2 separate regions of the Homo sapiens genome follow, and region 1 is linked to region 2. A link means that fine-mapping ties the variant in region 2 to the expression of a gene that starts in the linked region. Tissue or cell type: whole blood. Region 2 holds a variant in brackets; the other region holds the start of a gene. All regions are shown on one strand. Distances are between the middles of the regions.

Evidence for each region. PIP is the estimated chance that this variant, and not a neighbour inherited with it, causes the effect.
Region 1: RPL32 starts here. The variant in region 2 is fine-mapped to the expression of RPL32 in whole blood (TOPMed, PIP above 0.99).

What each region holds. Positions count from the first base shown.
Region 1 is chr3:12,838,658-12,843,802 of GRCh38, reverse strand. It overlaps RPL32 (ribosomal protein L32), which reads left to right and starts at 2,238. Exons shown (of 4, transcript NM_000994.4): 1 at 2,238-2,309; 2 at 3,561-3,661; 3 at 4,273-4,454. The coding sequence starts at 3,566. SNORA7A (small nucleolar RNA, H/ACA box 7A) reads left to right here and starts at 3,353; the gene lies at 3,353-3,491. RefSeq lists enhancers at 1,660-1,909, 2,003-2,939, 2,940-3,878.
Region 2 is chr3:12,816,481-12,821,625 of GRCh38, reverse strand. It overlaps CAND2 (cullin associated and neddylation dissociated 2 (putative)), which reads right to left. Exons shown (of 15, transcript NM_001162499.2): 10 at 3,750-5,145; 11 at 1,445-1,540. Among named protein-coding and RNA genes, the nearest start is that of SNORA7A, 21 kb to the left of the region's middle. The variant A/G (reference allele first, on the strand shown) is at 2,337.

The DNA of each region.
Region 1 (5,145 bases), 22 kb before region 2:
TTAATATATAAATGAGGTCTTGGTTTGTTTTCCAGGCTGCTCTTGAATGCCTGGCCTCAAGCAATCCTCCTGCCTTGGCCTCCCAGAGTGCTGGGATTACAGGTGTGAGCCACCATATCCAGCCCAGCTCTAGACTTTTAGAGAAATTTTAATAGTATTTTACACCACAGTGATTCCTTTTTTTAAAAAAAATTTATGTCCCTAGCATGTACAGTAAACACTAAAGTGATTCCTAAAGAATTCTTCCCTTTTATCACTTCCAGTAGGCCTCTGTGAAACCAAATCTACCTCCGCTTACAAGAAAGATGCTGGGCTGGCCTTCTCTCAAAGTCTTTCCAAACTTTTCTTGGCATTGACTTAGACACCCTAGGAATCTAACTTGAGAAAATGTTTTCATTAAAAAAAATCTCAGGAAGTAAAACCTCCTGAATGATTACTGAGTTGACATAAATCTTATGTGTATATTCTTATCAGAAAAAAAGTATCTTCATTTTGTGGGACACCAATTCATGTATTATTATTATTTTGAGACAAAGTTTCGCTCTTGTTGCCCAGGCTGGAGTGCAATGGCGCGATCTCCACTTACTGCAACCTCCACCTCCTGAGTTCAAGTGATTCTCGTGCCTCAGCCTCCCTAGTAGCTGGAACTACAGGCATGTGCCACCACACCCAGCTAATTTTTTGTAACTTTAGTAGAGATGGGGTTTCACCATGTTGGCCAGGATGGACTCGAACTCCTGACCACAGGTGATCTGCCCACCTCAGCTTCCCAAAGTGCTGGGATTACAGGCATGAGCCACCGCGCCCAGTCGCTGGGTCTTACAGTAACTTTATGTTTAACATTTTGAGGAAATGCTATTCTTTTCCAAAGTGACTGCACCATTTCATATTTGCACTAGCACTGTACGGACATTCCCATTTCTCTGTCCTAGTGAGTGTGAAATGGTATCTCACTGCAGTTCCAGTTTGTATTTCCCTGATGGCTAATGATGTGGATCATTTCATGTGTTCATTGGCCACAGAGAAATGTCTATTTGGATTCTTTACCCATTTTTCAATTGGGTTATTTGTCTTTATAGGTTTGTTGTTGTTGAGACAGAGTCTTGCTCTGTCACTCAGGCTGGAGTGCAGTGGCATTATCACAGCTAACTGCAGTCTAGAACTGCTGGGCTCACGTGATCATCCCAGCTCAGCCTCTCGAGTAACTGGGACTACAGGCATGCGCCACCAGCCCCAGCTAATTATTTTATTTTTTGTAGAGACAGGGTCTTACTATGTTGCCTAGGCCGGTCTTGAACTCCTGGGCTCAAGCAAATCTCCCACCTCAGACTCCCAAAGTATTGGAATTATAGGTGTGAACCATAGTGCTCAGCCAATTTGCACAATAATCTTAAATACAAAAGCTAAGCAAAACAAATCAAGAGCATCTTTAAAAACTAGGCAGTCTGGGAGGCAGGGGCTGCCGTGAGCCGTGAGATGGCACCTTTGCATTCCAGCCTAGGTGACAGAGGGAGGCCCTGTCTAAAAAAAACCAAAAACCAAAAAACAAAACAAAACAAAAAACATCTAGGCAGTAGCTCGTGCCCGTAATCCCAGCTACTCAGGAGGCTGAGGCGAGAGAATCGTTTGAGCCCAGGAGTTCAAGACCAGCCTGGGCAACAGAGTGAGACCCCATTTCTAAAAAATGAACAAAGAAAAACTAGGCAGTTTCGCCCAGTGGTTAGAAGCGTGGAGTTTGGAGTCAAGTCTCCAAATTTCATCTTCCACATATGCAAAATGGAGACAATAATAGGGGTACGTTATAGAATTGTGGTAGGCATAGTGAACTCCATCGCATGTTAGCTGTTTTCGTTACTATTTACTGTCTAAATTCGGTGATGAAATTATTAGGAAGTCTCTGTCTTGTTCTCTTCTGACCACTAAGAGGCGCACTTCGGAGTAGAAGAAACGCGGGCGGAAATAGCCCAAAAGCGGATTGGCTTCGACTTCTGGCGGAAGTAAATTCCTCCCTCCACCAGGTCTTATTAGCTCAGAAAGAATTCCAAATTTCTACGTAGTCCCAAGGATAGGTAGAATACATTTCTCAGTCCTATTCCTAGTTATTATTGTCTATTAAAACATGTATACTCAGAATTTTTGCGGCATTATTTTTTGACGTGTCTTTATTTTATTTAAAAGAGCCGGAGCCGGAAGTGCTTGCCTTTTTCCCTGCTAGGACCCAGGGGTTACGACCCATCAGCCCTTGCGCGCCACCGTCCCTTCTCTCTTCCTCGGCGCTGCCTACGGAGGTGGCAGCCATCTCCTTCTCGGTAAGTGTTAATCCGTGGCAATCCGCATTCCTGCGGGATTCATCTGGCCCCGTCGCCCAGTGGTGCGGAGGCCTCCCCTTCAGCGCGGTAGTGTCTGTGGGTATTGTTATTGTCAGCTTACTGGAGCGTGTACAGGAACAGAACGAAGCCGCCGAGTTGATAGGGCTTTGCGTCCCAGAGCCTCCTGCCCTCCGCCTGTATTCAGAGCTGCGGGCTGCTTGTTTGTTCCTTGGCGGTGGAGGGTGCTAGTTGAGGCCAGACTTCGGGGTCTCCTGGGGGCCGTGGGACGACCAGGGGTGGCCCAGCTTGACAGCTTTCAGCTGGGATCTGTGGATCCCAGCGCTCACCAATGTCGGCCCACGTGTATTCGTTCATGCCATGGCCGGCTTCTTCCGCTGCAGTCTCTGGCCCGAGGGCTGCTGCTGCGGGACCGCCAAGGAAAGACGAGCTGTAGGTCGGCTGGTCCAGCTGCAGGCAGAAATTCTGGTAGTATCTCTGGGAATATGAAGATGCAACTGCCCCCACCTTGCCTTCGAGGATATCATGGGCCAGAAGGCAGAGTCGTTTTGAATACGTGGTTCATTGAGTACCCACTCTGGGCCAGTTGATGGCTGCGAAGAGAGCAGAAGGGGTGCTGCTGTAGGAAATCAATGGCTCGGAAGACCACACTGAGGAAGGTGTGAGTTGATACTGGAAGATCTCCAGGTTTGAGGCATCTTCAGAGGTATATGGTGGTTTTGTGTGTGTTGAGGGTGTGGTAGCGCAGCAGCTCCCTAGGGAATTAGAAGGTTTTATTGAACATTTACCCTGTGACAGGCACTGCAGGCATTCAGCGCGCAGTGTCATCTTCATTTTACAGGTGAGGAAAAGACTCAGGTTCAAGTAGATGGTCAAGGCCAGTACTACCGGAAGGACCATCTGGGGGTTCGGACACTGGTGGGGTGGGATTTGCTGCCCCTTGCAAATTGAGAGTGTCTTGGGGTCAGTTTTGATTTGCTCAGCTGTTGGCATTCTTTGGGCTCTGAGTGGGTGAGGTGACCCTTGACCTCCTGGGATCGCATCTGGAGAGTGCCTAGTATTCTGCCAGCTTCGGAAAGGGAGGGAAAGCAAGCCTGGCAGAGGCACCCATTCCATTCCCAGCTTGCTCCGTAGCTGGCGATTGGAAGACACTCTGCGACAGTGTTCAGTCCCTGGGCAGGAAAGCCTCCTTCCAGGATTCTTCCTCACCTGGGGCCGCTTCTTCCCCAAAAGGCATCATGGCCGCCCTCAGACCCCTTGTGAAGCCCAAGATCGTCAAAAAGAGAACCAAGAAGTTCATCCGGCACCAGTCAGACCGATATGTCAAAATTAAGGTATGTGGTCCTGGGATGGAAATGGGTGTGGGGTGAAGAAAAGAGTTTCCAACAGTTTCTGACATCACCTAGTCAGGATTATCTTTGACCGATGAACTGGCTTGTGGAAGAGCTTTCTGTAGAAATACAGGTCTCCCCCAGTGTGCCCTAGTGCTGGTACTTATGTCTCTTGATGTGTGAAGCGAAACTTTAATGAAAAGGGACATTTGGCCGTTTTGATGTGTTCAGAGGGCTTTGCATTTGTGTCCTGTATTTTGGGTTGCCTTGTGACAGCAGGATCCCTATTTTATAGACAAGAAAACTCAGGTGCTGAGAGCAGTGTCTGCAGCTGTGCTTGCCATCTCAGTATCTACACAGTCCCCTCGCATCCCATTGGTGCCTCCTCCATTGCTTGGGAGTGGCAATGGTGGGGGTGCCTTCATCCCTAGTGGCTAAAGCCACGAGCTCCTGGTTTTTCCCACCAAAAAAGTAAGGAAATAGTGAAGTCCTGTTACCAAAGGCAACTACTGTGTGGCATACTTCCTTTTCATTTGGTCCTTTTTTTCCCTCCCCAAAAGGAAGAGTTCGCACTCTGCACAGACGCTAACCCACCTGTGTATTATTTCCTTCAGCGTAACTGGCGGAAACCCAGAGGCATTGACAACAGGGTTCGTAGAAGATTCAAGGGCCAGATCTTGATGCCCAACATTGGTTATGGAAGCAACAAAAAAACAAAGCACATGCTGCCCAGTGGCTTCCGGAAGTTCCTGGTCCACAACGTCAAGGAGCTGGAAGTGCTGCTGATGTGCAACAAGTGAGTTGGGTCCCACCTCTAGTTTTCAGTGATCAGAAGTTTGCATCTGTGTGAGCACTTCTGGCAGGAACTCTACAAACTCTTGGGATGCATTTTGGCGGGGGGTGTTGTACATTCTCTGAGGGAATCAGAAGTTGTTCCTTGCAGGATTTTAGAGAATGCTTGTTGGGGAATTCAAGGTGTTTCCTTTGCTGAAGGAGGTGACTTGGTCTTCTAAGTGTAGAGACCCAAGACCAGGAAAAGACTGCTTTGTGAACACTGCAATAATAGCCACTTTCCACTACTACAATATCCTTTGGCTGTTGTTTCCAAAATGTTGCTTTCTTTATGAAGGTGTCAAGCAAAAGAGTTGAACTCTGAAATATTCGAAGAGATTTATTCTGAGCCAAATATGAGTTGACCATGGCCCGTGACACAGCCCTTGGGAGACCCTAAGAATATGTGTCCAAGGTGGGCGGGGAGCAGCTTGGTTTTACATATTTTAGGGAGACATGAGACATCAATCAAATACACATAAGGCATACATTGGTTTGGTCCAGAAAGGCGGCACTTCGAGGTTTTGGATAGATTTTCTGTTTCTCGTCGAGAATTGGTTATCACTAGAAAGGAATGTCTTGGCTACAGTAAGAGGTTGTGGAAACCAAGAGTGCCCTATTCAAGGAGGGAGTGCATTCAGATGGTTGCTGGGGGC
Region 2 (5,145 bases):
TGCTAGCCAAGGGCAGCTCCGTTACAATGGAGGAAATCAGGCCGGAGGGGGGGCATGTGCCCACTGCATTAGGGCAAGGGACAAAGTTGCTGCCGATGACCTTGCTAGAGCTTCTGCACGTGTTCTCCAGTGCAGAACACGGTCACGTCTGCTGGCCCCTTGGTCCCACATAACAGGCCCCTGGCAGATGAGTATCAGCACAACCGTTCCTTTTTTTTTATTTATGAGACAGAGTTTTGCTCTTGTTGCCCAGATTAGAGTGCAATGGTACGATCTTGGCTCACTGCAACCTCTGCCTCCCGGGTTCAAGCAATTCTTTTGCCTCAGTCTCTCAAACAGCTGAGATTACAGGTGCCCACCACCATGCCCAACTAATTTTTTTTTTTTTTTTTGAGACGGAGTCTTGCTCTGTCGCCCAGGCTAGAGTGCAGTGGTGCAATCTCCGCTCACTGCAACCTTCACCTCCCGGGATCAAGTGATTCTCCTGCCTCAGCCTCCAGAGTAGCTGGGATTACAGGTGCCTGCCATCATACCCGGCTCATTTTTGTATTTTTAGTAGAGACAGGGTTTCACCGTGTTGGCCAGGCTGGTCTTGAACTCCTGACCTCAGGTGATCCACCTGCCTTGGCCTCCCAAAGTGCTGGGATTACAGGCGAGAGCCACCGCACCTGGCCCAGCACCCCCATTTTATAGCTGAGGATGAGAAGACTTGTCCACACTCACACACCCAGGGAATAGCAGGGCCAGGATTTGAACCTGAGGCAGGTGAGCTCCAAAACCTCTCTCTACTGGGCTGCCCTGCCTAGATGTGGGCTGAGACTCCAGTGTGGCCCAGTGAGGGGCTGCAGGCTCCAAGCTCTGAAGGGGCGAGGGCTCTGCCTTCCTAGGAAAAACCCAGTGGTCCTGCCGAGCCCCAGAGGGAGGTCTCAGTTCCTCTCCTCCCAGTGAAGGCTGCTTGGGCTCCTCAGGCCAGAAGGCCCCTCAGACAGAGGGCGATCTAGTGGACAGGCGGGGCCGGGGGGAGCACTCTTCCCTGCCCCACTTTGGGGCCCGCAAAAGCTAAGGCATGTGAGAGGCTGGTGGTTTTCCATTCCCAAGAGTCTATATGTTGATGAAGCATCTTCTCCCTCAGTTGCCCATGGGCTTCCAGGACAACTCTAGAAAATGCAGATAATAAGAGTTTCTCACGCCCATTTGACAGATGAGGAAAGCGAGGCTTAGAGGTGTGATGGGCATGCCACACCCACCCATGATTGAGTGGCAGTAGGAAGGCAGGGATGTGAACCCAGGCCTTTTAACTGGAGGGCCAGGCCCTGCTGCCCATCATGGGCACACCTCCCGGGTCTCCCATTGCCCTTGGCTATTGGGTAGTAAACATCAGCCCAAGCTCAAGGACTGGGTGGGGGCACTGAACAAGGTGGAGGGGCAAGAGGTAGGTGCTCACCGATGAAGCTCTTCAGGAGGGGGTCAATGGGATGGGGCTGGTCCGAGATAAGGAACTTGACCGCTGTGATGACGGTGCTCCGGGTGTGTGGCCGACCTGCAGGACAAGAAGAGGTGAGTTAGTGAGGGGCAGGGGCCAATCCTGGAGGCTCACAGATCAGAAGGTGCTTAGGCTCCTCCCCCTGCTTCCCTGGAAAACAGAACTGTACCCCCTCCCCATCTCTGGGAAAGTGGATTCTACCATTTCCCTTGGCAGCCTTGAATCTCCCCTCAATTCTTCCTGCTGCAGCTGAAACAGTAGGACTGCCAGTGCTCAGGTAACACCACAGGCTGCAAACAGGGAACCAATAACCAAGACAGGAACTGCTCCAACAAAGACCTTCCCTCAGGCCTTGGGATTTTTCAGACATGTTATCTCAATGAGTCCTAACAATGATCCTATTAATAATAAAGTAGTATTAAAAGAACCAATAAAATCACCAATAAAAATCATCTCTTTGACATATGAGGAAAGAGAGACTCAGAGGGTTTAAGTTCATGTCTAGGGCCACACAGCAGATCCAGAATTCCTGGCTGGGCCCCTCTTCCTGGGGCTGCGTTCTGGCTGGTGGTCAGGGAGGCCTAACAGAACTCGGATCACCTCCAGGCTCGGTCACAGAGAGCTTGCTTACTTGTGCTTTGCCGCTTGCTTTCTGAGTAGAGAAGCCCAGTAAAGAGGGGAAGTACATTCCCTTAATGAAGGAAACGAATGGGTGGACGCTCCACCTGCGTCTGAATCTCTCCTCAGTGGCTCGCCCCCTTTGCTCCCTGCCCAACCCCAGCACAATGCAGTGAATGGGCTAAGGTGTTTCCACCCCACAGGCTTTATGTTCAGCCTCGAGGAAAAGTTTACC[A/G]TTTGGTGCTAAGGCATGAATGAATGGAAGAGTTACTGAATTCAGACTTTCAGCTTTTACCTCTTTCCCTTGCCAGCCTGACTGGCTCCCAGGAAGATTTAGGGTGGCTGATGAAGACAGGCACAAGAGAGTAAGATTAAGTGAACTGAAAACAAGAACAAGGCCAAGGACGACTGAAGGCAGGGAGGTGAGAAGGAGACTAGCAGGAAGATGTACAGAGAGCATCAATAAGGAAGTCCCAGGAACCTACTAGAAGCAGACCACTCATCTGGCTCTAAGCTTCCCAGCAGTTGGTGCTAAAAAGGAAATGTGACCGGGTGGCTGGTTCAACAGTGCACGTGAGATAGAAACAAATAGGTGTTTAGGCAAAGCAGGGCTCCTCTGCATCTTAACACTCTCGTCTCTCAAGGTTGTGTGATGTAATAGACAGTGTCCTCAACAATGTTCTTCCATCCAGTCCTGAGGCCAGACAACTGCTTCTTACGAACCCAGCAACCCAAGAAGGCCTTAACTGAAATCACTAACCTACCTAGTAACAACAGCAGCTCTTGATTTACTCAGTATTAATTACTGTAGGTACCACATAGGTTACCAAACACTGTACCTGCATTCTGTCAAGCAGAGCATCCACTGGTTCTGTAAGGGGCCAGCTGGCCAGCTCGAAGCCCACTGGCCTTTCATTCTGGGAACTCTCATTTTCCTAGGAGCCTGATGACCCTACCTGTCTGCTTTCCACCTCCTGAAGCTAAGACACCTGGTGTGCCAAAACACGACAAGCCAAAACGCCTGCCCCTCCTGGTTCTTGCCCAGCCCTCTCCAAGCCTCGGGGGCATGTCAGCCTGTCCCCGTCTATACTGACGTCTGCTCTTGGCTCAGGCTAGCCGAAAGAGCTGACCCTCTGCAGGCTGCAGTCTACGGCTACTGGGAAAACTGTTTTTGTTGACCTCTGTGTGGAGCACTAAGCTACTGTCCACATCAAGGATTATGAAGTTGGCATCATGAGGTTTTTTGTTTTGTTTTTTTTTTTGGTAGAGGCAGGGTCTCACCATGTTGCCCAGGCTGGTCTCAAACTCCTAGGCTCAAGTGATCCACCCACCTCAGCCTCCCCAAAGTGCTGGGATTACAGACATGTGCCACCATGCCTAGCCAACATCATGAGATTTTTAAATGTATTTGTTGTAGGGACCAATCAAGGACTCTGTCCCTTCTATCCCACAGTCCCATAGGAGGAAGGCTTTAAGTCTCAGGTATCACTGTGTGTTCCTCTGTAGCTTCCTTGCCTCTGTCGTATAGATACCGTGATTCTTGTATCCAGTGACTTGAAATAGCTCACTCTGCCCCAGCTGCCTGGATGCTCAGTGGCAAACTGCCCACCTCCGAGGTGGGCTGCCTTGCCCACACCTGTGTGCCTACCTGCAGCAAGCTGCTTCCGCAAGCGGGGCAGAAGGAACGAAGGGTTCACAAGGACCAGCTTCCCAATGCACTCGGCCACCACCCCCCGGGTGCCCTCCTCAGCACCCTCGCAGCGCTGGAACAGCAAGGCCCAGATGTCCTCGGCGTAGGGCTTCAGGCTGTCAGGCTGGGCGGCCCCCAGGGCCTCCCTGAGTGAGTGCAGCAGCAGGTACTGTCGTCGGGGCTCAGCCTCGATCTGCTCCAGCAGGAAGGGCAGGAAGTCGGGCAGGCTGCCAGCACCCACACGGCCCAGTGCATACGAGGCTGCAGCCCTCACATCCTCACTGGGTGACCCCAAAGCTTCCAGGAGCACCGCCTTCAGCTCCCGCTGGTGGCCTGGCCCAGCCACCTGACCCACCTCAGCCAGCGACAAGAATGCCAGGACCTTGACCCCCGTGCTGGAGTGGGGCGACCTGGCATCGCAGACCAGGCGACTGGCTGTGCTTGCCGCCTCTTGGGGACAGGCAGCTGAGAGGGCTGCCACACACCGGGCCAATGAGTGGAACACCTGCTTGTGCAGGCCAGGCCCACCATCCACAGCCTGCTCATAAACAGGCGCAGTGAGCAGGCTGATGAGTTTGGCATAGTCCACACACGGGGGACGGGTCCCTACCAGGGCCTGCAGGAAGCCTTCAGCAGCTGCCAGAACCCCGGCTGGCAACAGGGGCGAACGCAGCAGCCGCAGCAGCTCTGAGAGCACAGGGCCACTGACCTCCACCAAAGAGGCTGGCTGGGCCTGGGTCACTGTGGCAAGGAAGTCCACAGCCAGCTGGGCCACATGCATGTCGCTCTCGTTGACCAGGGCAGGCAGCTCAGCCAGCACGGCCTGCACGGCAGACGGTGGGAGGCTGAGGCCCTGGCTCTGGGCCAGGGCGTCCAGGGCTGCCAGTGTGGCCAGTCGCAAAGCCCGCTGGTTCTTCCGCAGGAATGAGGCCAGAATGTGCAGTGCCTCGGCCAGGATGGGCTGTAGGTCAAGCTGTAGTGGGGATACGGCCACCAGCGTAAGCGCCTTGATGGCGGGCAGCCGGGTGATCTCATTCCGCAGGCGGTCCAGGAGGAGCAGTAACGTGGGCTCCAGGTCATCCCCAAGCCGGTCACCCAGGTGGCCTACAAGGTGGCCCATGCAGGAAATGGCCCGCTCCTTCACCTCCTGGTCCAGGTCAGTGGCACGAAGTCGCGCCAGGGTGACAGCAGACATCTCTCCAACATATGGCTCAGGATCCAGCATCCGAGGCCTGTGCAGCGGCCACAGGGCCCGCACCAGCTCCTGCAGCACCACCAGGGCCTCGGCTGCAATCTTGTAGAAAGAGTCAGCCACACAGGCCATCACAGGTGGCAGGAGGATAGGCAAGTGTGG